2 separate regions of the Homo sapiens genome follow, and region 2 is linked to region 1. Evidence: fine-mapped expression QTL. A gene starts in region 1. The other region holds a variant in brackets. All regions are shown on one strand. Distances are between the middles of the regions. Region 1 holds the start of UST (uronyl 2-sulfotransferase). Region 2 has its middle 150 kb from the start of UST.

What was found.
Region 2: its variant is fine-mapped to the expression of UST in visceral fat (GTEx, PIP above 0.99). The same link has a PIP of 0.9 or more in esophagus muscle, fibroblasts, subcutaneous fat and transverse colon.

Annotation. Positions count from the first base shown.
Region 1 is chr6:148,741,607-148,753,378 of GRCh38, forward strand. It overlaps UST (uronyl 2-sulfotransferase), which reads left to right and starts at 5,424. Exons shown (of 8, transcript NM_005715.3): 1 at 5,424-6,071. The coding sequence starts at 5,825. LOC124901425 (a long non-coding RNA gene) reads right to left here and starts at 3,993. Exons shown (of 2, transcript XR_007059806.1): 1 at 2,378-3,993. RefSeq lists enhancers at 5,053-5,112, 5,173-5,252, 6,561-7,062, 7,063-7,562 and silencers at 5,823-5,912, 6,213-6,382.
Region 2 is chr6:148,587,486-148,599,257 of GRCh38, forward strand. No RefSeq gene overlaps it. Among named protein-coding and RNA genes, the nearest start is that of UST, 150 kb to the right of the region's middle. The variant C/T (reference allele first, on the strand shown) is at 5,673.

The DNA.
Region 1 (11,772 bases):
AGAGAGTAGTCCCAGAAAACTCCTCTGATAAGGCAACATTGAGCAAAACTGGGAGGAAGTCAAAAGTCAAGCCATGCAGAGGTGTGGAAAAGAACTTTCTAGGCAGAGGGAAGTGTGAAAGCAAAGGTCCTAATAGAGGAGCAAGTTTTTGTCTTGTCTGATGAATGAGGATAGGTAAGGGTGAGCAGGAAAAGTGATAAGAGATGAGGTCAGAGAAACAATGGAGCCAGATTGAGTAAGACCTCAGAGGCTACTCTAGGATGCTGCCTTTTACTCTGAGTGCATTGGAAGCCACTGGCAAGTTTTGAGCAGCAATGGCTATTTTGGCTGCTCTGAGGAGAATGGAATATGGGGTGAAAGGCTGGGAGCAGGCAGACCAGTCAGGAGGAACAACAGAAATTGCTGATTGCCACATAGTAGCCATCTGCCCTTTCTTTCTTTAGCAATAGAACCCTGATTCTTATTTGTGGCAGCAACGCACCCAGCTAAAGTCTAGATTTCCTAGATACTCTCTGTCCCCTGTCCCTTACAATTAGACAGAGTCATGTGATTAATTTCTGGCCAATGACCTATAAGAAGGTAGATTTATAGCACACTTTGGAGCACTGCTTAAAAAGAGCCTACTCAGTTGGGAGTTCTTTGCTCTTTTGCTTCCTTCTGCTGCCAACCTGGAACATAGACATAATAGCTGGAACTCTAGCAGCCATCTGCAACCATAAGGAGATCTTTTTGTTTTGTTTTGTTTTTCTCCCCTTCTGCATTCTTATCATTTATTTGTGGTAAGAACACTTAAAATCTATTCTCTTAACACTTTTCAAGTATACGATACGATATGTTATTAACTATAGTCACTACGTTACAGAACTCTTGAATTTATTCCTGCTGCCTAGCTGAAATTTTGTATCCTTTGACCAACATCTCCTCAATCCCTACCCTTCCCTCCTTAAACCCTGTTAACTGTAATTCCTCTCTCTGCTTCAATGAGATGGCCTTTTTTAGATTTCACATATAAGTGAGATCATGTAGTATTTGTCTTTCTGTGTCTGGCTTATTTCCTTTAACATAATATCCTCCAGATTAACCTGTGTTATTGCAAATGACAAGATTTCCTTCTTGAGGCTGAATAGTATTATCCATTCATCTATTGATGGACACTTAGGTTGATTCCATATCTTGGCTATTGTGCACAATGCTGCAATGAACATATCAAAGAGGTATGAAGATTTCATACCTTTTTGAAATGCTGATTACATTGCATAAGACGGCCTTTAAAATGGAAGCCACATGCTGAGGATGGTGGAACAGAAAGCTCAGGTGGGTCCCTGAGGATAGCATAGAAATACCACACCAAATCTGGACGGCCTATTTCTGGACTCGTTTCACATGAGAGAGAAATGGGCCAGGCATGGTAGCTCATGCCTGTAATCCTAGCACTTTGGGAGGCCGAGGTGGGTGGATCATTTGAGGTCAGGAGTTCGAGACCAGCCTGGCCAACTTGATGAAACCCCGTCTCTACTAAAAATACAAAAATTAGCCAGGTGTGGTAGTACACGCTTGTAATCCCAGCTACTTGGGAGGCTGAGGCAGGAGAATCACTTGAACCCCGGAGAAGGAGGTTGCAGCGAGCTGAGATTGCGTGGCTGAACTCCAGCCTGGGCAAAAGAGGGAGACTCTGTTTCAAAAAGGAAAAAAAAAGAGAGAGAGAAAAAAAAATAAAGTTCTTTTCTGTTTAAGCCACTGGTTTTTAAATTTGCGGTTTTTTTTTTCCAGCTCTATGTAGCTAAACTGAAACATGATGAATATAAGTAGCCTTTGCAACAATCCAGGTGAGAGAAGACAGTGGTTTGGCCCGGGGGGGTGGCAAAGGATGTCAGATACTGGACTTTTTTTTGAATCCTATAGGATTTGCAGATGGTTTAGATACAAGAATGAATGAACTATTAATAGAAAAACTAAGACTTCTGGTTTGGGGCCCAAGTGACTTGAGAGTGTAATGATTTACAGAGATGCAGAAGGCTATGGAGGGGGCAGGCTTGGGTGTGGGACTGGGGTTGGTGGGAACGGCAGTCTAGGGCACACGTGGCAGCATGGCCTTGATAGAAGCAGGAACACGATGAAACAGGGAGGGAGGCCAAGAGCACGGGGCACAGATTGGTAGGAAATGAGTGAGCTCTCATCCTACTGCTTCTATTTTCTCAACAAAGGCTGATCCAGGTCATCCCCTGAGACTGAAGGGAAGAAAGCAGAGGGTGGAGATGGGAGGTTTGAAGAGAAAGACACTATGGAATAGTCCTTTTAGTGAGTGGGATTGCTGGGCAGCCATGGGTGTGCATCTGTCTGAAATCTGTGCTCTCTAATTTAAAGAAAAGCCACTTACCAGCGCTGTGTGTTTTTCTGCAATCCAGTCCAGTTGCATGGTTGGGTTTAACTGAGCCTGGGTTTCACCAGACAAGCACTGTAGGATATAAGATGAGAGAAACAGGGGGAATGAAGGGGTGTTTGCAAGAAGGAGATCAGAATGATGGATCAGGAATCAAAACTGGATAAAGAAAGAAGTAAACACATGAGATGGATGAACACAGACTTGACAGTTCTTGAAAAGACCGAAAAACAGGGTGGGCTCCAAAGAAGCCAAACAGAAGGATAGAAGGTTGTGAAGGGGGAAAAGGAGATTTCGGAGATGCAATTAGTCATCAGTGAGGACAAGGTCAAATGAGTCACTGGAGAGAGAAGGAATTGAGAAGCTAAAGATATTGAATGGAGGTCAAGGTGCTGAATAAAGTATATTTCATTATAAGACTAATAATAAAATTCGTTCACAACTTCCTCTAATTAGATTTGTTATCTGCTTTGAATAAAGATACCATTAATTAGTCTAAGTACTTTAAATTTAATTTTTTTTTCTGAAGGGATATTTATGGGACTTCAAAGAACAAAGTTTTACCCAAACAACTAAGTTTTTGTTGGGTGAAAATATAAAGCATTTTTTTCCATGTGAAACTTCTTTGTATCTTGATATCTCTTCTTTTTCTTCTGTGAGTTTTTTTAGGCGGCGAGTCTATTAACACAATCTTTTAAAGATTGACCTGTTTATTCTCTCTGAAATAGTTCATGTCATAGCTTGTTTCTTCTAAGCTGGACTTTGCCCCCTTGTACTTTCCTTGCAACTTTTTCATCGTTTTTTAAAACAACATTTATTCTCATATTTACTTATTTTCTCAAATGTTTGTTTCCTTTCTTCCTGCTCCATCTCCCTGTTCCTCAGATTCCTTTCCTTAGGAGAAAAAATTGGGGTATTTCCCACAGCATGCTGTGAGAAAAGTCTCTGAACTTCCTGGGGGTGGGACTTGTGAACACAGAGGGTCTTGCACACTATTTTATATCCAGCGAGTGTTCAGATTACAGGGCCAGGCCTCAGATACAGGTCCAGTTTGTGGAAGGCGGTCCCTGAAACATTATGAACACTGCTTTGCTCCTTCTGTCTCCTAGTCCCTCTTCTTAAGCTCAAACGTTATTAATTGGGAGTCTGTTCTGGGCTACTCATTGTACTGATTAAAGTAATTCACATTAATGGGCAATGACTGATCTACTCAATTCTCTTAGGGGAAGTCACATTTCTAAAATGTGCATATTAATCCAAATAAAACCCTGATTCATGAGATAAATGTAAAGCAAATGATTAACACTCTATTCAGGGTTTTCTGTCACAGAACAAAATATTTTCTTTTCTCTTGGGGCCCCAAAACAGCCTTCTCATCCCTTAGAAAGTGGGCTAGGACAATGTAAAATTGGACAGTAGAGTTGTGTGTGTGTACGTGTGTCTCTGTGTGTGTGCAGCACCTGTCACCTCATCTACACATCTCTCTAGCTCATGATATATGTTTCAAATCATGAACCAGAGACATTCATATATGAACATGGTTAAGACATATTCATTCTTTCTTTCTTTCTTTTCTTTTCTTTCTTTTTTTTTTTTTTTGAGACGGTGTCTCGCACTGTCGCCCAGGCTGGAGTGCAATGGCGCGATCTCGACTCACTGCAACCTCCGCCTCCCGGGTTCACACGATTCTCCTGCCTCAGCCTCCTGAGTAGCTGAGGTTAAGACATATTCTTAACGAGTAAGTTCTTTGTCTAGGATAATATTTTGTAATTTTCCACAGAATATTCTTCAGATGCCTAACTTGATGAAGGTTTTCAGGAGCCTAGTCTTAGAATCATAGAGGTTCTTGGCTCCTGGTTCCTTCTTAAATCCAATTGTTCATTACTGGAATATACAAATGAGTAGGGAGCCAGAAATGATAGGCACCAGAAACTGAGGTTTCCATTTCTCAATGTGGCCTGAACTAAATGAATTAAATCTCATCCTCCTATGGGACGTGAAGGAAAAGGGCTCTGGCTGGGAAGTACTGCTGTGCAGTGGTTAGTATAGTGGGTCTGAGGGTCAAATAGATTTGAGTGCAACTCCCAACCCAACTCCTACTACTAGCTTTGGGACCTCGGGTGAGTCACACAGCCCTCAGGTGCTACAGCTTCTATAAATAGTGATATAGTATTCTTACTTAAAGTGTGGCTGATCAGAGCAGCCCTTCCGTGGATCAACCACCCCATCAGAGGATCTATGTCTAGGATTGAGCCTTTTCTGCCCCAGGAGGTTCTTTCAGGTCCAGAGGCTTTCCCGTGGAGGGAAGAGAGGCAGCAATGAAATCAGCGTATAGGCGGACTGGGCTCTTTCCCCTTCATGTCTGCAGGGCAATGACCTCCTAGAGTCCGCTATGCACCCCCCACTTGCCTCTCTGGGCACTGCGAGGTGGAGCAGTTGTAGGACCAGGAAAAGCAAGAACAGAGCGTCCTCTTCGGCTACCCTACCCGGGAGTTCAGGCGCTGCGCCTGGCCCTCTGGGGCGTGTTTGACCATAACTCGCACCGCTTGCTCTTTTCCCATTTCAGCAAAGTCTTGAGCCTGTATTCTAGTACCTTTTATCAGCCTTGGGTAAGCAGCTCGCACGGGGTATATAAGGAGAATCAACTTTCTGAACTGAAAAAAATGTAAATAGTAAAGTCAGTCGTGCTTCTTCCTGCCGGTGACTGTTTACAAGAGGGAAGTCAGCGGGGCCCCCAAGAGGTCGCTGGTGGCGCAGGAACCGCATCCAGATTGTAAAGAACGGGGGAAGGAAAAAAAAAGAAAACACCCAGAAACTTTCTTCCTTGTTGCGAATAATCGCCGCCTCCCCCCCTCCGCCCCCAGCAGAAGCAGTAACGTGACACCCGAGCGAAATCCCGAGACCCGAGCGGAGAGGGAGGGGAGAGGGAGGAGAGTGCTGCGGAGCGCCGGAGGGAGAAAGGGGAGGAGAAGGAGGAAAACCCCTGTCAAGGAGGTGGAGCGAGGGGATGGTGTCCGCCTCCTGTTCCTCCCTGCCGTTTTTTAGAGAAGCCTGAACCGGGACAAAACACGCCGAGACCTACAGACACAAAGCCGGGGGGTCCACGCTGGCGCTGGAGGCGAGCCCCGGCGGCCGCAAGCGAGCCCGAGGCGCGGCGGGGCGCGGGGCGTGGGGACGCTAGCGGGCGCCGGACGGGCGCGGCGCCCCGTCACGGGCAGCGCCCCGAACCGGGGCCGGACACCTCGGCCGCTCGGGCCGCGGCGGCGGGGACCATGCCGAAGAAAGTCTCCTGAGCCCGGCAACTTCGGCCCCTCCCCGCCCCCACCCGGCTGCCCTCCGCGCGGCCCTCCCCATGTGCAGCCGGCCAGCCGGGCTCTCCTCCTCGCGGCGGATGGGTGACCTTTTCCTGGCACGGGCAGGCTGTGGGAGGCAGCGGAGCAGGCGATGAAGAAGAAGCAGCAGCATCCCGGCGGCGGCGCGGATCCCTGGCCCCATGGGGCCCCTATGGGGGGCGCCCCTCCGGGCCTGGGCAGCTGGAAGCGTCGGGTGCCCCTGCTGCCTTTCCTGCGCTTCTCCCTCCGGGACTACGGCTTCTGCATGGCCACCCTGCTGGTCTTCTGCCTGGGCTCCCTCCTCTATCAGCTCAGCGGGGGACCCCCTCGCTTCCTGCTCGACCTGCGGCAGTACTTGGGTAAGGAAGCTGGGCAGGCGCTAGGGCGGCGCCGACAGCGCAAAGTTGTGCGGCGGGGAGAGGGTCGCGGCGGGGACTTCTCGCGCTGCCACCGCGCGCCGCCGCCGCCCCGGGTCTCTCCAGGTGCTAAGCCCGTGAGCATCTGTGCCGCGGTCGGGAGCGCCTTCTTCCTCCCGCGCGTCCGACTGTCCTCACCGAGGCGGGGGCGCCGCTGGGTTGCGCTGCCGGCAGGTACCCCGGGGCGAGGCACCGCTCACCTTCCCCCCGCCCCACCTCCGCCACCCGGATCCGGACTGGGGCGGAGTGGATGGGTGTGTGGGGTGTGCCGGAGTGTGTGTATCTTCAGGCCTGGCGGCGCGGGGAGTGGCGAAGGGAAGGGAAGGTCCTCTTCGTTGCATTGTTAGTGACCGCAGTTCAGTCCCGTCCCGCGCCCCGGGGAGTGTGGGTGGGTTTAGCCCTTTGCCACCGTCCGCTCTGAGAATTCTGTCCCGCAGATCCCCCGCCTGCCCGCCGGCCCTAGTGGCTCCGCGCTGTCCCCGGGCTGGCTTGTCCCTTGGCTGCCGCTGCCCACCCCGCCGCCCGCAGCTAGCCTGGCGCGGGGAACGGGTTGCATCCAGGGGTTTGGGGATGCCCGAGGGCGCTGGTCAGCCTGGCCAGCAGTGTCGCCCCCAGTAACCCGAGGATCCTCGGCGCTGTGTGCGTCTCAAGCTCAAGTCAAAACTTGTGTGTGTGTGTGTGTGTGTGTGTGTGTGTGTGTGTGTGTGTGTGTGTGTGTGGTTTATTAGGAGAGAGGCCGCCTGTCTTTAGCAGAAGTAAGGAAGGGGTTTGACGGGAGGGAAAGAGCCGCTCCAGCGAGAAGGCGTGACCCCGCAGCTCCCTCGTCTCGGCTGCGGGAGCCAGGGGTGCCAGGGACAGGCGAGCGCAAGCCCAGGTCGCAAGGACGATGCTGGCACTCGCGTTCGAGCCAAGGGAGGATGCAGATCCCTCCCAAGTCTGTGGCCAGAAGAGGTCGTGCGGGGGTGAAGGCTGGGAGAGCTCCAGCTTCTTGCAAGCATCCGAAGTGATAAGCCTGAGCATCTGCACGATGAGAGCGAGTGCGGGGAAGCAGAGCCACCGAAGTGCTGGAAAGAAAATGGGCCAAATGACCCGGGCCAGCTGGAGGCTGCCACAGTTACCCCAAACGTCACTTCGTGGCAGAAGCCACAGGTCTAGATAGTAGACCGTTTGGAGAAAAGAGAAAAGAAAAGGAAAAAAAAAAAACCCAAAACAAACAAACAAAACAAAGCAAAACAAAAACAAAACCACATCAGCCAAGTTACAAATGTGTTAGGGCATTTGGAAATGTAGATGTGGATAAAATAATATTCTTTACCTTGTACAAGACCTCATATTTTAAAAGTTACACTTTTATTTCTTTATAAACTTTGGGGAACTACAGATTACAGGAAAAGTTGGCCCAAGTAGATTTCCATAGCATTTGGTTTCATAGAGGATTTGGGGCAATATATCCTTTATTAGGGAATCAAACCTCTTCTTTTCATAAGTTCTGTATTGTGGAGTCTCATAGCTTCCTCCACTCTCTGACACCTGCTAGTGCCACAAAAGTTAACAGTATTTTCATCACCAGCAGCAATCCCTGTTAACAGGCATTGGGAGGCAAGCGTTGAGGCTCAGGGTCTTTCTCCATTAAATCTGACAGTGAATTCTTGTGGAAGTTCTTTTTAAGTAATAGATGGAGGCCAGGGGTGTAGGGAAAAGTGTAATGGACCAGGATGGAAGTCATCTGTGCTCATTGTCCTCAAAGCACCTGGCCTCGTGTAGGGTACTCAGACTTCATAGGCCTGGTGTTTCATGGCAGAATTAGAAGCCACACCTGACTGTCAATGAAACCTCCACCCAGCTCCTAAAGTTTTGGGGTTCTGACACCTTTCTTGAGGAAGGGAAATTCTGGGAGGAGGAAGGAGCAAAGGTACTACTGAGGATAAAATCAAGACATTTCAACATATATTGCATTAACATTTTCACTTTATATTTCCAAACAATGAGGCCTAATAAATTTGGGTGGTCAGTTGGTAGAAGGGTGAATTCTCAGCTTCTGCTCAGGAAACTAGGAAGAACTGAAAGATTGAATGCTGCTCCTGTTACTAGCTGATCATTATATTTCTGACTGATGTGATAGGTTCAAAATGACATCATTGTGAACTGAAAATAGAATACCCTTGGCCAAATTTGTTCCCTGTTACGTAAATATAATGATTTTTGGGAAAAGTGGGCTTGTGGTATTTTGGATGGTCTAAAATATACCTTTAATAATATAAGGCCACTGTGTCTGCAGAATTACTTTCCCCTGTTTTCCTCCATTCTTTTATTTTAGTGTCTGTCAAAACAAAACTTGTGGTTAGTAAACACATCCTCTCAATTTCCTCAGCCAATTTTGGCAGCAAGTATTTTTCGTAAATGTAAGTTCATGTAAAGTAAAAATTTTCCAAATCAAAATATGTTTATATCAAACACTTTTCTTTACAGAGTATTATTTCAGTATACTTATACAATATTCTATGTCTGACACACAATGGCCACTCAATAAATATTGGTTGAATTAATGACCCAACCTGTTGTATCAAACAGGTAGTGTGATATTTAACGTACTGAATATTCTCATAGGAAAGCCAAGAGACAGTAGCATTCATAGTAAAAGCTAGTATTTATCACGCATGTGCCAGTCAGTGCATACACAGGGTGACATTCAATCTGCACAGCAACACTGTCGGTAGGTTCTATTGTTATTTCCATTTTCTGTATGGAAAAAATGAGGGCAAAGAGTTATGAAGGACACATAGCAAGCGAGGCAGGACTTCAACCCATGTCTGTCTGATTGCAATACCCATTGCATAGCACTATGGGCAGTTTAAGGGAGAAAATGGAAGGACAGCCAAGATGCAAATGGGAATCTAAAGATCGGGACTGGCTAAAAACGATCCATCACATTTACATCCATAATTCCACTTTCCTTTTCTTGATACTTGTACTCTGAGTATCTTGAGGAGCCAGCAGAGAAGGGAAATAATTCAAGCAGCTGGTTTGCTTTAACTCTACCTTTCCGTATTAATCCCCACTATGTGGCCTCCATTTATTTAGGGAACTAGACCCTCCCTGAGCTGGACAACAACTGGGAGTAATGTTGGTCGGACTCGCATCTTCCGGGCGTTTTCTCTTTCTTTAGCAGTTGTGCTATGTCTAGGCTAGTGGTTCCCAATGTGGGTCCTTGGACCTGCCGCATCAGCCTCACCTGGGAATTTGTCACAAATGTACATGCTAAGGTCTTATCCCAAAGCTGCTGAAGTCTGGGCACAGGGCCCAGCAATCTGTGCGTCAGCAAGTCCTCTAGGTGATTCCAACGCAGAGAATTTGAGAACCATTGTTGTTGAGCAACAACAAAGTATTGCTTTCTGGAGGCTTCCCATGTATTTGAGAGAAAGGAGGAATGTGAGGCGGGGTGGGTAGATTTATAAAGTATTTAAAGGTACTTTAATACTTTAAAGTATTTAAAAATGTGATTTAAAAATGTACATGGTTTCAGTTTTTAATTTCAACTTTTAAAAATGCATCTTGTTTGCTACTTAAGCCCCACTGTTTTGAGGGAAGGACCAGCCAACGGCACCCACCCCAGCTGGCTTTAGACCTTCCAAGGTTAGGAGAGGTGTGACGTGAGGAGTAGGCTGACGTGGGGCAACCGGAAAGCATAGTGTGGGGAAGGACGAGAACAGAGCCACTGATGATGCTTTCTCTTCCCCATAGGAGACAGTGGTGAACAGTCCTTCTTCCTAGTCAATTTGGGGAAAGGCAGAGTATGTTCTACTTAGAGAATGTTCTGCTGTAACACATTTGAAAAGAGTAAAGGAAGTGATGGGGAGGAAAATCATGCAAGGATAACTGTTATCTTGATTTCCCACCCTGAGATTGGGTGGAGGGGGAGCACAAACATACATTGGGGTAAATAGAAATATATAGCAAATGCTACACTTAAGCTTGGAGACCATGGTCTTTCCAATTCAGTGAATTTTTTTTTTTTGAAATGGCATTCAAACTTTGTTTTGCTATGGAAAACAAACAAAAAATCAAATAAAATCTCCCCCAGAAATTAGGTTATGATGCAGCCTTGCTGCCAGTAGCCTTATTACTTATGAGCTGTGGAAATATCAAAAACTTGGAATAAGACTCATTGATATAAACAGAATAAGCCAGATGGCTTACTACTGATCTTGTACAACCGACAAACTCTAATGATCTATCATCCAGCCTTGGATATGTGATTTAGACTTTATGGGAGCTAAACTTGTTGGACTCATTCCCAGCTGATATGCTTTCCTTTCCATTTTTAATTTATACCACTTTAAATGGAGATATAGAACTTTAGTTCTCAGAATTGCCAATCTTTACGTATATTATATATGAGCCTGGCAATTTAGAGTCAAAAAATGAAAAGTATGTCATGTTATTGAATTTGAAATTCTCTAAGTTTAAGTGCATTTAAAGGAAAATGTGAAAATAGAGGTCCATATCTGTTACAAAATAGTTTCTTTGAACCTAAAAAGCCAAATTTTATTTTTCTTCTGCATTTCACACATGGTATAAATATAATACTTTAGGCTCCAAACAGTAATCTAGGAAATGAATGCATAAAATATGACGTTATCAATAGAAATTGTTGACATAGAAAAAATGATATTCTTGTTCATAGCTACAAGTTTATATTGTGGGGTTGGTTGGGGACACAGTGGCACTATATTAGAGAAAGGATAGAAAATGGAATTCAGCTATGGTAATCCGTTCTGTAAACAAATAGCATGAATGGTGAAAAGCAATCTGCCTTGTAAACTATTTTTTAATGTAGACTAGTCTTAGTATGAATTGTCTAAGAACACATATAAATGTGGATTATCTAAATACTGTCTTTCTTCAAATTCCCTGTCATCAATCCAGGCTTAAGACAGTGGTTAGTTTTGTTTTGGAGAAACTGGAAAGAAAGTGGTCAAGGTTTTTGAGTCCCAAAATAAATAGTATCTTTTGCTTCCTCAGAGGGAGACTGAAGGAGCAAAAACAGTAGCTTGACCTGCAGCTGTACTGGTGGGTGTCCATGATGGACAATGAAAACGCATCTTATTTGATGGATTGTAGCTGCTAGAATTATTAGGAGTTGCTGCTTTTTTTTTGTTTTTTGGAAAGAAGACTTGACCACAAATTAATTTTGTCATAAATATATTTATTTGTATTACATAGAAACTCGGCTTTAAGCAAACAGTGATATACATAAATCCCTTTTTATCAGAAATAGGGACAGAAACACTAACATTTCACAAAAATTCTTATTTGCAAAAGTCAATGTAGCAACTGTTTTGCAAGAGAATTCCAAATAAAGTACATTTCAGCATTTGCTATTAGTTTTTAAACAGCTTTGTTGAGATATAATTCATATACCATATAATTCACCCATTTAAAGTTTTTAATAGTTTAATAGCTTTTAATATATTATAGATATGTGTAACCATTGCCACAATTTTAGATTTTCATCACCACAAGGAGAAACGCCATACCCTTTATCCAACACTTTTGCCCCATCAACCCCAGTCCTAAGCAACCGCTAATTTACTTTCTGTCTGTATAGATTTGCCTATTCTTGGCATTTTATAGAAATAGAATA
Region 2 (11,772 bases), 150 kb before region 1:
GGTCTCCAGGACCCACAGGCTGGGCTGAGTGAGAAGTCCAAACAGCCAAGGTGGTGGCCTGCTCCACCCCCTGGGCACTTTGTTCCAGGGGGAAATTAGAGCTCTGTTTATGGAAAACTGGTTGGAGTGGCTGAAGCTCTGGCTGCGAGGTCCTGCCCAGTGAGGAGGAATGGATCTGGGTCCTGCCTAAAGAAGCAGTCTGGCCACAATCTGGCAAAGTGGCTGTGCTGCACTGGGAGACTTTTCTTATCTGGACCATTTGGACTTTCCAAAGCTGGCAGGCTGGAACCACTGAGTTGACTGAACCACAAAGATGGTGGCTGTCCCTCCCCACAGGAGGCCCTGTCCCAGGGTGAGATCAGAGCTCTGACTGTAGACCACTGAATTCTTCCATATTTCAAACTTTTGAACTATTTTTATAGCTATTATGATAATCTGTGGTCAGTGATCTTTGATGTTTCAATTGCAATTGTTTTGAGGTACCACCAACCATGCTCAGATAAGAGGGCAAACTTCAATAACTGTTGTATGTGTTCCGACTGCTCCACCAATCTGCTGTTCCCCCTTATATCTCTTTTGCTGGGTTTCCCTATTCCCTGATACAATAATATTGAAATTAGGCCAATTCAGAACCCTACAATGTCTTTAACGTGTTCAAGTGAAAGAAAGAGTTACAAGTCTCACCCTTAAATCAAAAGCTAGGAATGATTAAGCTTAGTGAGGAAGGCATGTCAAAATCTGAGATAGGCTGAAAGCTAGGCTTTTTGCATCAGTTAGCCAAGTTGTGAATGCAAAGGAAAAGTTCCTGAAGGAAATTATAAGTGCAACTCCAGTGAACACACAAATGTTAAGAAAGTAAAGCAGTCTTATTGCTGACATGGAGAGTTTGTGTGGTTTGGATAGAAGATCAAACAAGCCCCAAGATTTTCTTAAGCCAAAGCCTAATCCAGAACAGGGCCCTAACTCTTCAATTCTATGAAGGCTGAGAGAGGTAATAAAGCTGAAGAAGAAAAGTTTGAAGCTAGCAGAGATTGGTTCATGAGGTTTAAGGAAAGATGCCATTTCCATTACATAAAAGTGGAAAGTAAAGCAGTAAATGCTGATGTAGAAGCTGCAGCAAGTTATCAAGTTATCCAGGAGAGACAGCTAAGATCATTGATGAAAGTGGTTACACTAAACCACAGATTTTCTTTTTTTTTTTTTTGAGATGGAGTCTCGCTGTCTCACAGGCTGGAGTGCAGTGGCGCGATCTCGGCTCACTGCGAGCTCCACCTCCCGGGTTCACGCCGTTCTCCTGCCTCAGCCTCCTGAGTAGCTGGGACTACAAGCACCCGCCACCACGCACAGCTAATTTTTTGTATTTTTAGTAGAGAAGGGGTTTCACCATGTTAGCCAGGATGGTCTTGATCTCCTGACCTCGTGATCCTCCTGCCTCGGCCTCCCAAAGTGCTGGGATTACAGGCGTGAGCCACCGTGCCCGGCTAAACCACAGATTTTCTATGTAGATTAAACAGCCTTCTGTTGGAAGAAGATGGCATCCAGGAGTTTCATAGGAGGAGAAGCGAATGCCTGGCTTCAAAGCACTGAAGGACAGGCTGACTCTCGTTAGGGTCTAATGCAGCTGGTGACTTGAAGTTGAAACCAATGTTCATTGAGCATTCTGAAAATCCTAGGGCCCTTAAGAATTATGCTAAATCTACTCCACCTGTGCTATATAAAGAAACAACAGGATCTGGATGACAGCATATCTGTTTATAGCATGATTTACTGAATATTTTAAGCCCACTGTTAAGACCTACTACTCAGAAAAACAGATGTCTTTCAAAATATTACCACTCATTGACAATGCAGCTAGTCACACAACAGTTCTGATAGAGATGTGCAAGGAAATAAATGTTGTTTTCATGCCTGTGAATACAACATTCATTCTTCAGCCCATGGATCAAGGAGTAATTTCGACTTTCAACTCTTATCATTTAAGAAACACATTTTATAAGGCTTACAGCTGCCATAAATAGTAATTTCTGTGATGGATTTGGGCAAAGCAAATTGAACCTCATAGAAAGTATTTCTCATTCTAGGTGCAATTAAGAACATTCGTGGTTTATGAGAAGTCAAAATACTGACATTAGCAGGAGTTTGAAAGAAGTTGATTCCAACCCTCATAGGTACCTTTGAGGGTCTCAAGACTTCAGTGGAGGAAGTCACTGCAGATATGGTAGAAACAGCAAGAGAACTAGAATCAGAAGTGGAACCTGAAGATGGGACTGAATTGCTGCAATCTCATGATCAAACTTGAATGAATAAGGAATTGCCTCTTATGGGGAGCAAAGAAAGTTGTTTCTTGAGATGGAATCTACTTCTGGTGAAGATGCTGTGAACATTGTTGAAATGACAATGAAGGATTTAGAATACTATGTCAACTTAGTTTATGAAGAAGTGGCAGGGCTTGAGAGGATTTACTCCAATTTTGGAAGAAATTCTACTATTGGTAAAACGCTATCAAATGGCATCTCACGTTACAAAGAAATCTTTCATAAAAGGAAGAGAGAGTCCATCGATGCCTCAATTTCCATTGTTGTCTTACTTTAAGAAATTGCCTCACAGCCACCCAAACTTCAGCAACAATTACCACCATCAACACTGTGGCAAGACCCTCCACTGGCAAAGCTTACAATGTGTCAAAGGCTCAGATGATTGTTAGCATTTTTTAGCAATCAAGCATTTTTAAATTAAGGTATGTGAATTGTTTTCTTAGACATAATGATTTTGCACACAATAAACTGTGGTATAGTGTAAACATAACTTTTAGATATACTGGGAAAACAAAAAAATTTTTGTGACGTGCATTTTTGTGACATTCACTTTATTGCAGTGGTTTGAACAGGACCCACAATATCTCCAACGTATTCCTGTATACACCTGGACCTTAACCAGTGGGAAAAATGAGCAGCAAAGTTGTCCTGGGTCAACTAGAGCTGGAAAGTGTCGGGGCTGGGACAAACCAGGCACTATCTGTGCCCAGCCCCCTCTCAGCTCCACTAAACAGCTTTTTTTCCTCCTTCAGCTCAAGGGCCACCAAAGTGAGGGGGGCTGGTGATGTCTGTGGTGCCCCTGTCCATTCATGCCCAAAACAGGTGAGAATGGAACCACACAAAAGTGAAAATGAAACTGGTGGGGAGGAGGAAATAAGGTTCAGAGGGAAAGAATAGGGGTGCACACAGGAAAAAGAAGAAAAACAAAGGGGAGACTTTCACAGATTGCCTAGCCATGGCACTGGCACAGGCAGTAAATGATGTGGATTCTGTCTTGGGACATGTGGCTACTCTATTCTGAAAATGTCATTTGCTTAAAAAAAAAAATTATCTATTGCCATTTAGCCCTCCTGGATATGCAACTTAAAAAAATCAAATACAGAAATTGGGTTATTTTCTCCAAATAAATTGAGAATATTTTATATTACTTATTGTGTCTTTATAGTAGAAGATATTGCGAGTTTTTCACCTAACGTTTTCCTTTTTGTCATGGACGCACAACTGGATTGCATTTCCCAGCCTCTCTCACGGGTAGGTGTGGTCACATGACTGAGTTCTAGCCAATGGAATGTGAGAGGAAGCCAGAGCTGACGCATAGAACCTCTCACGTTATTTTCCCTTCCATGGTGACATGGGAAGCATCCATTGAAGAAGGTGGAGCCATGGGTGGGAAAGGAGCCTGATCCCTCAGTTATAGTCAGCCCTCCAAATCTGTGGGCTCCACATCCTTGGATCCAACCAATGCTGACTTGAAAATATTTGAAACAACAACAACAAAAATAACAATATAACAACAAAAAATAATACAAATAGGAAACAATATACAGTAACAACTATTTACACAACATTTACATTATATTAGGTATTTAAATTTTTTTTAGAGTTGGGGTCTCACTATGTTGCCCAGGCTGGAGTGCAGTAGCACAATCATAGCTTACTGCCATCTCAAACTCTGGGGCTCAGGCCATCTTCCCACCTCAGCCTCCCAATGTGTTAGGATTACAGGTGTGAGCCATTGCACCTGGCCTGTGTTAAGTATTATAAGTAATCTAGAGATGATTTAAAGTATACAGAAGGATGTGCACAGGTTATATGCAAATACTATGCCATTTTGTATCAGGGACTTGAGCATCCAGGGATTTTGGTATCTGCAGAGTTGTGGAACCAATCCCCCAGGGAGGCTGAGGGATGATTAAACTTTTTGTGTGTGTGTGTGTGTGAAGTATTTGACAGGTTTACATCACTGCTCACCACTAGGGAACAAATTAATCATTTTTTCTGTGCCTCAGTCTTTTCCTTATCTGAAAATATTGATAGCAACTACCTCCTGGGGCTATTGGAAGTACTAAATGAGTCAATATTTTCACACTTAGAATAGGGCTCTGCTTAGAGTAAGCACTACATAAGGATATATTAAATAGTGAAAGCTCTATAAGTGTCAGTATTATATTAGCCTTTATGGCTGTTAAGGACTGAATATTTGTGTATCCTCAAAATTCTTATGTTGAAATCTTAATCCTCAATGTGACAATACTTGGAGATAGCAACTATGAGAAGGTAATAAAATTAACTGAGGTCACACATATGGGTCCCTAATCTGATAGGTCTGGTACCTTTTTTTAAATTTTTTTTTTGAGATGGAGTCTCGCTCTGTTGCCCAGGCTGGAGTGCAATGGTGCGATCTCAGCTCACTGCAACCTCTGCCTCCCAGGCTCAAGTGATTCTCCTGCCTCAGACTCCCGAGTAGCTGGGACTACAGGCACGTGCCACCACACCCGGCTAATTTTTTATATTTTTTGTAGAGACAGGGTTTCACCATGTTAGCCAGGATGGTCTCCATCTCCTGACCTCTTGATCCTCCCGCATTGGCCTCCCAAAGTGCTGGGATTACAGGCGTGAGCCACCACGCCTGGCCTGGTGCTCTTTTAAGAAGAGGAAAATATATCAGCATTCTCTCTCTGCACACGTGTGCACCAAGGAAGGTCATGAAAGGACACTGTGAGAAGGTGCCATCTGCAATCCAGGAGGGGAGTCCTCACCAGACACGAAATCTGCCAGCACCTTGATCTTGGACTTCTTAGCCTCTACAACTGTGAGAAAATAAATTTCTGTTGTTTAAGACATGCAGTCTGTGATACTTTGTTCTGGCAGCCCAAGCAGATGAACACAATGGCTATTCTAAACATTTTAAGACATTTCCTTGAATGGTAATGAGAATAACCTTGGTTGATAGGTTTTCTTTTTTCAGGATGGCATAAAAGTTAGGAGTTGAGGTTGAGGTGTCAGATGAGTTGGCCTGGGTTCAAATCTTGGCTTTGCAGTACTGTGAGACATGAAAAATTTACTTAACTCCACTAAGTCTTAATTTTCTCATTAATAGGACTATAATATCTACTTCATAGGGCTATTGGAGGATTAATGAGATAATGTTTGTAAAAAAAAATTCAGTGGAGTGCCTGGCACATAGTTAGTCCTAATTAATCTCAGAATCTGTTTTTTTTGGTTGTTATTGTTGTTGTTGTTTACTTTTTGGCGCCAAAACTCTTCCTTGAAGCAAAATCTTAGATAAATAGCCAATCCAGCATAGATGGAAGCAGAGGGTAGGGCTTGGAAGGGAGGAGACCCTCTGTCCACCCA[C/T]GGGCTTCTCCTCACATCCAGTGACATTCTCCAGAGTGTCCCTGAGTCACCTCTGTGGAATCCTAGCACTGCTCAGCACAGTTTGATCATTTATAGGACTTGAAGTTCCCTAAACGATTATTTTGTTCCAGTTTTAACATTGTTATGACTACGAGAAGTGGCATGTGGCCGTGAAATGGAAGTGGAAGTTGAAATTATACTCACACGACCTTTTCCCTATGTTTGGGCCTCTTCTGACTTAGCAAATGACTTCCACCACTGCCTCTCACGCTCACGGGTTAAGCCCCCTCTCTACAGGAGTCGCCGCCCTTTCTCCCGTCTGCTTCTGCTGCATGGAGAGGGGTGGCAGGACGCTGACATGATGCTGACATGATGCTGTTGCCCTGCTGCCTGGGGCCCCATTGAGGGGTCCAGGCTCCAGATGAGGAGTGAGAGCTCATGAGATTTCATTTGTAGAGCCGGATGGCTAAGTTTCTGACAGATAAGGCCCTCAGCCAGTTACAAGGCATGGTTGTGAAACTAAATTATCTAGGGAAAAAAATGAGCCGTTCTGACACCCCCGTGCCTTCATCCAGTCAAAAGTTAAATTATCGCCCAAATTTTCCCTCTGTACCTCTACTTAGCGGTACAAGTGTAAGCCATACATAAAACTCCAGTTAACTCTGACTGGGCAGGAGTGGCTCCATTTCCCTTGCATTCAGAGGAGGCCACGTGGCTGCTGAAACCCTTAGGGGACTTTCACTCCCACTGGGATGAAATTTTAAGTCTTAACCATGGTCTCTGACCTCATATCCTCTCCGTCTCCTCCTGACCCTTGCTGCTCCAGTCACTCTTGTCTGGGGTTCCTCGAGCATGTGAAGTATTTTCCACTGTCTGAGCCTTTGCACATCTGTTCCTGTGACCTTCCTCCCAGAGAGCCACGGAGCTCCATTCTTCATCAACTTCCTCCTCAAAAAGGCCTTCCTTGCTTGCCGTGTCTAAAACAGCATCACCGATCCCTCTCTAAAATTGTGCCCTGCCAACATACAGTTACGTAGGAGGAATAAATTCAATGTTTGATAGCAGAATAGGGTGACTATAGTTAAACAAAAATGTATTGCACCCAGGAGATGGACACCCTAATTTGATCACTATACATTATATACATGTAACAAAATTTCACATGTACCCCATAAATTTGCACAAATAATAAAAAGTCAACATGAGCCTTTCTTTGTATTTATGGCTCTTACCTCCATCCCACATAGAGTATGGACAAATATCGACAATTGCCTATCTCCCATCCCCTTCACAGACATGGAGCAGAAACTGGGTCTACTGCGTTCACTACCATAGCTGCAGGTTCTGGAACAGTGCTTGGCACATCGATGCTCCATGAATCCACGCTGAATGAATGACTAGGTGACCTTAACTGTTACTCGTGCATCTGCACAGTTACAAACTTGCAGAGGCATGCAGAGAAGTGGTGGATAGTATTGGCTCTCAGCTGCTTGTATTGTGGCCAGGCCTATTGATGCCTGGATTTGTGGCCTTTAGAAAACCCATGTAGGCCCAACAGAAAGGTCCAAATAAGCCTGATTCACCTTAGCGGGAGAGTTCATATCTGCGTTAATTGTTTTAACCATGAAGTGACGGTTACACCTCTGGCCATTATTCTTGCTTGAGGAGAGTAGTTCCCATCTTATTCCTGTTTCTTAACTTTATCTTATGCTACAGTGGCTTTATACTGTGTTAACTTCGGCTGGTTAGAATTATGTTTCACAGAATTCCCTTCCCAGTATGGTTCTGAGTTAGAATTGGCCAAAAGAAAGTTGGCCAAAGCATGCTCAGTAAAAACAGATGCTGAGATGCCAGTTACTGCCAGTGGTCATCATGCTTCCCTGCTCTGCATTCAGCCCCTCCTCCTGCCAGCTGGCCCTGCTGACCAGCATCGACTGTGGTCCACCACCAGGTGTAGGAGCAACATCTTGCCTGGACTTCCCCATCAGCTCTCCACTGTCCTTCCTCTCCAGCATCTGGATCTGCTGGCTTCCCGGAATCCCTGCAAGTGCTGACTTGCCCATCTGTCCCAGTGCTTCAGGAGGGCTGCATAGGGCATTTTCCCAGAACCTCCAGCTCTCATGTCAGACCTTTACTTCCAGCTCCTCCCACACTTGTGTAAGGTTTAATCCCTGTAAGAAAGTCCTATTCCATCATCCTCATTGTCATTCCTCTTCCCTGATTGAACTTTCATTCATACACATGAAAAGTATCCTGTACTCAGCCTGCCAATTAATAATCATTTCTCCAGCATTATCAGCAGCATTTTAAATATGGATACTTTCTTTCTAAATACTTAATACACTTGCCTTCCTCTACTTTATAGCATGATCTCAATAATTATCTAATATATAATGTAATTTGTTATTTCCCAAAATATGCTTTGATGCTTTTTGATGAGATACAGACTAAAGCTTCTTAAAAATTATTCAAAACAGTCATGTGTCCTATATGATGTTTTGGTCAATGACGGACTGCCTACATGACCGTGGATGGAGCAATAGGCTAGGTGTGTACTAGGTTCTACCTTCTAGGTTTGCATAAGTACACTTAAGTACACTCTATGATGTTCACATGATGAGGAAATTGCATGAGAATGAAATCGCCCAACGATGCATTTCTGAGAATGTATCCCCATTACTAAGTGACGCATGACCGTACTGGGAAGTAGAAAATATAATCAACACTGAAACTCATTATTTCATGAATATTATAAGTCAAAACAGAGCCAAATTTATGGAGCCAAAAGAAATAAGTAAATTAGAGGATAGTATAAAGATACTATGAGAATGACTGGTATTTGGGGAACTTGGATACAGTCACCAATGTGAGATAAGCTCTGATTTGGGAGGCAGGAGACCTTGGTTGTGGCACCTCCTCCAGAGGACAGAGCTACAGAGGCAGATGGGTGCTCTGTGTGTGCAATGCTGGGCAACCTTCGAAGGCACTCGGCTCATCCTCCCAGATGACCCGTCCAGTCCCAGCCTCTCCTTGGAGCCTTGCCAGCCCCTAATATTTCAGCCTGTAAATGCTCCAATTACCCAGCGCTGCCCCACACATCTGCAATCACTTATAAACATATTTCCACCACTTCTGTCTCTTACTACCCTACTCCCCTGCACTCACAACTTGCATTGTTAAAGTTACCTTCACTTTTCACATTATTAATTTTTTTAAACCATATCTGAACTGGGAATTAAACTATTCCTAATTTTAAAAAGAAGCAGATGCTCATTGAATAAATTTGAACAATACAAATAAAATGTGCTAGTTTATCTTTGCTCACCTACTACTTTTACTTAAATTTTATTTTAAGTAATTTTATTTTATTTTAGAGATTGGGGCAATCTTTCCCCCAATTTGATATAGAATCTTCTAGGATTTGTTTTTTATTTAAGTATTTGCATGTAGGATTTTTAAAAAATAAAATGGGGTATTCTATGCTTGTTATTCAAGACTTTACCTTTTGCATTTATCAATGAATCATGGATATTCTTCCATGTTATGTACAAGCTCACCTCATCTTTTTTAACAGATGCACAGAATTTTACAATGCTATGTTTGAAAATGACTCCTGAAGGCCATTGAACCACTTTCCATGTGATTACATCAAGTCCAAGACCTGCATTAAGCCCCAGTGTCCTAAGGCATTCATTGTATGTCACAAATTAACTTCCTTCCTAGGTCTCTAGAATGATACTAGAATGCAACATCCTTGGAAAAATCAGGAGATAGTCACTGGGATCACTTTCTGTATTCTGTGGTTCAGATGAGAAACCTCACTTGAGCAAGACTAGATCTCAACACAACACAGCATTGGATGCTCAACCCTCTTCTGCCAGAGGAGCTCCCAGATTTCACAGTTCCTCTTGTAACTGAACACAGGTTTGGCTGTTTGCCACCTGCAAAACCATAACAAGGATGGGGTGCTGTGGAAGGAAAGCGACTTTATTTTCTGAAGCCAGCAGTGTGGAAATGGTTCAGTCTCCTGTCTGTTAAAAGAAAAACTTCAGCTGAATTAAATTTAAAGGAGTTTAATTGAGCAATGAACAATTCATGAGTCAGGCAGCCCCCAGAATCACAGCAGGTTTAGAGAGACTCCAGGGATGCCTCATGGTAGGAACAAATTTAGAGACAAAGAAAGGGAAGTGATGTATAAAAATCGGAAGTGATGTATAGAACAGCTGGATTGGTTACAGGTTGATGTTTGCCTTATTTGAACACAATTTGAACACTTAGCAGTCTACGAGTGATTGAAGTATGGCTGTTGGGATGGGCCAAGACTCAGCTATTGTTACAGGCACATACTCCTAAATTAGGTTTTCAGTCTTGTCTGCTTATTAAGCTAGGTGACAGTTCATCCACAAGGACTCAAATATACAAGTATGGAGTCCTTCTCAGGCCCTATTTAGTTTGCTTTAACACGCCTTAACAAAACTACTTGGAAATTCCCAGGCAAAATGCTAAGGTTTAAGAAAGAGAAATTTGGTATGGAGGGCATGCAGTGCAGGACTATGTGACTTGTTCCAATGACTTATCCTGAGTTATTGTCTCATCTGGTGAATGGGCTGGCACCATCTTGGGTTTGACAGGGTTGTAAATTAGCTGCAGCCTTAAAGTAATCTCCTAGTCAAGGAGAATTCCATAGGCACCTGGATTGTCTGAAGATTCAGTCTCCAGAACTTCTAAGCAAACATAATTAGATAAACCAGCAATGCAAGGAAGTGCCTAGTGGAAAGAAGGAGAGTAAAGGTTACTATTTCATTAGTAAAAAGTTAATACAAAGGGCCACAGAAAGAAAAGGAAAAAAAAAAGTAAAAATAGAGTACTTAATTACACTCCCATGCCCACTAACCCTCATCTAGTAATAGACAGAGTTATCACATACACACATATGTAGGGGAGATTAAAAAAACTCTTCCTTTCCTCACTTAGCTTCTATGGCTGGGATACTGGAAATTAAACTGAAAAAAGACAGATGAATAAGAGAAAAACACAGTTTATTCACACATGCAGCATGAATACATTCAAGAGAAATCTGGTGATTGGTCTCTCAAAGGGGCGATTAGAACTTGGAGCTTATAGAGCATGTTAACAAAGAATGATAAAGTTGTAGAGAAGTGACAAGGAAAAGGGGCTTAGGCTTTCAGGGGTGGGAAGGTAAATATAAGGGGAAAGACAAGTTGTTTTCCTAAGGTTTGTTATGTAGATTTCATCTCTGGGCTGATAAGAATCTGATTACTAAGAGTTATTCTGCTCTTCCTGGTACAGGAAGGGCACCTTTCTCATGGGAAATTTTATGTCCTACTTTTAGATAGAAAGGGGAAGGTCAGAAAGCTCTTCCTGCATCTGCTGTTTTTCAAGTGTCTTCAGCTCAAAATAATCCTTATGCCAATGGCATATTTTGGGGTGGCATATTCTGATTCCCTACAATAAATACACAGTGAACTAAACTCCCACCTTTAATATTATTGCTCTCTCTCATATTGGCTCTTACTTAATATTAATAATTTCAGCTAACACTTTTGGAACACATTTTATATCCCAGGCACTGTGCTAAGCATGTCATATAATCTATGTCATTTCGTTCTTTCAACAACTCCATGAGACTCAAAGGGGTTAAGTAAGCCTTCCCATGGTCACACGAATAGTAAGTGGGAAGAGACTGAAAAACGAATTTAAGCCTGCAGATTACTTCTAGTTCTCCAAAGCCTCACTAACACTGTTGGGATAAGCTCAGCCAGGAGTTGGAGTGAAGCTATCTTTTCTATGTTTGTATTTTGCTATGCCAAACACCCTTTAAGGCTAAAAGACTCCAGTTATCCATCTTAGCTTGTTGGCCTTGAGAGGTAAGGAAGGTCTTTACACACAATGGGCACTTAAATCCATTTGAATGATGACTCTGCTGCCTTCATAACTTGTCAAGGGTTGGGACTAGAGTCCAGCATTCTGAGCCGCTGGATAAATCTGTCAGAGTGATTGCTGATGGCTTGTTTTCTTTCATTTGGTGGAATATTTATAGAAAAACTTTTAGCAGGCTCCAAAATGTAATATTCTCCAG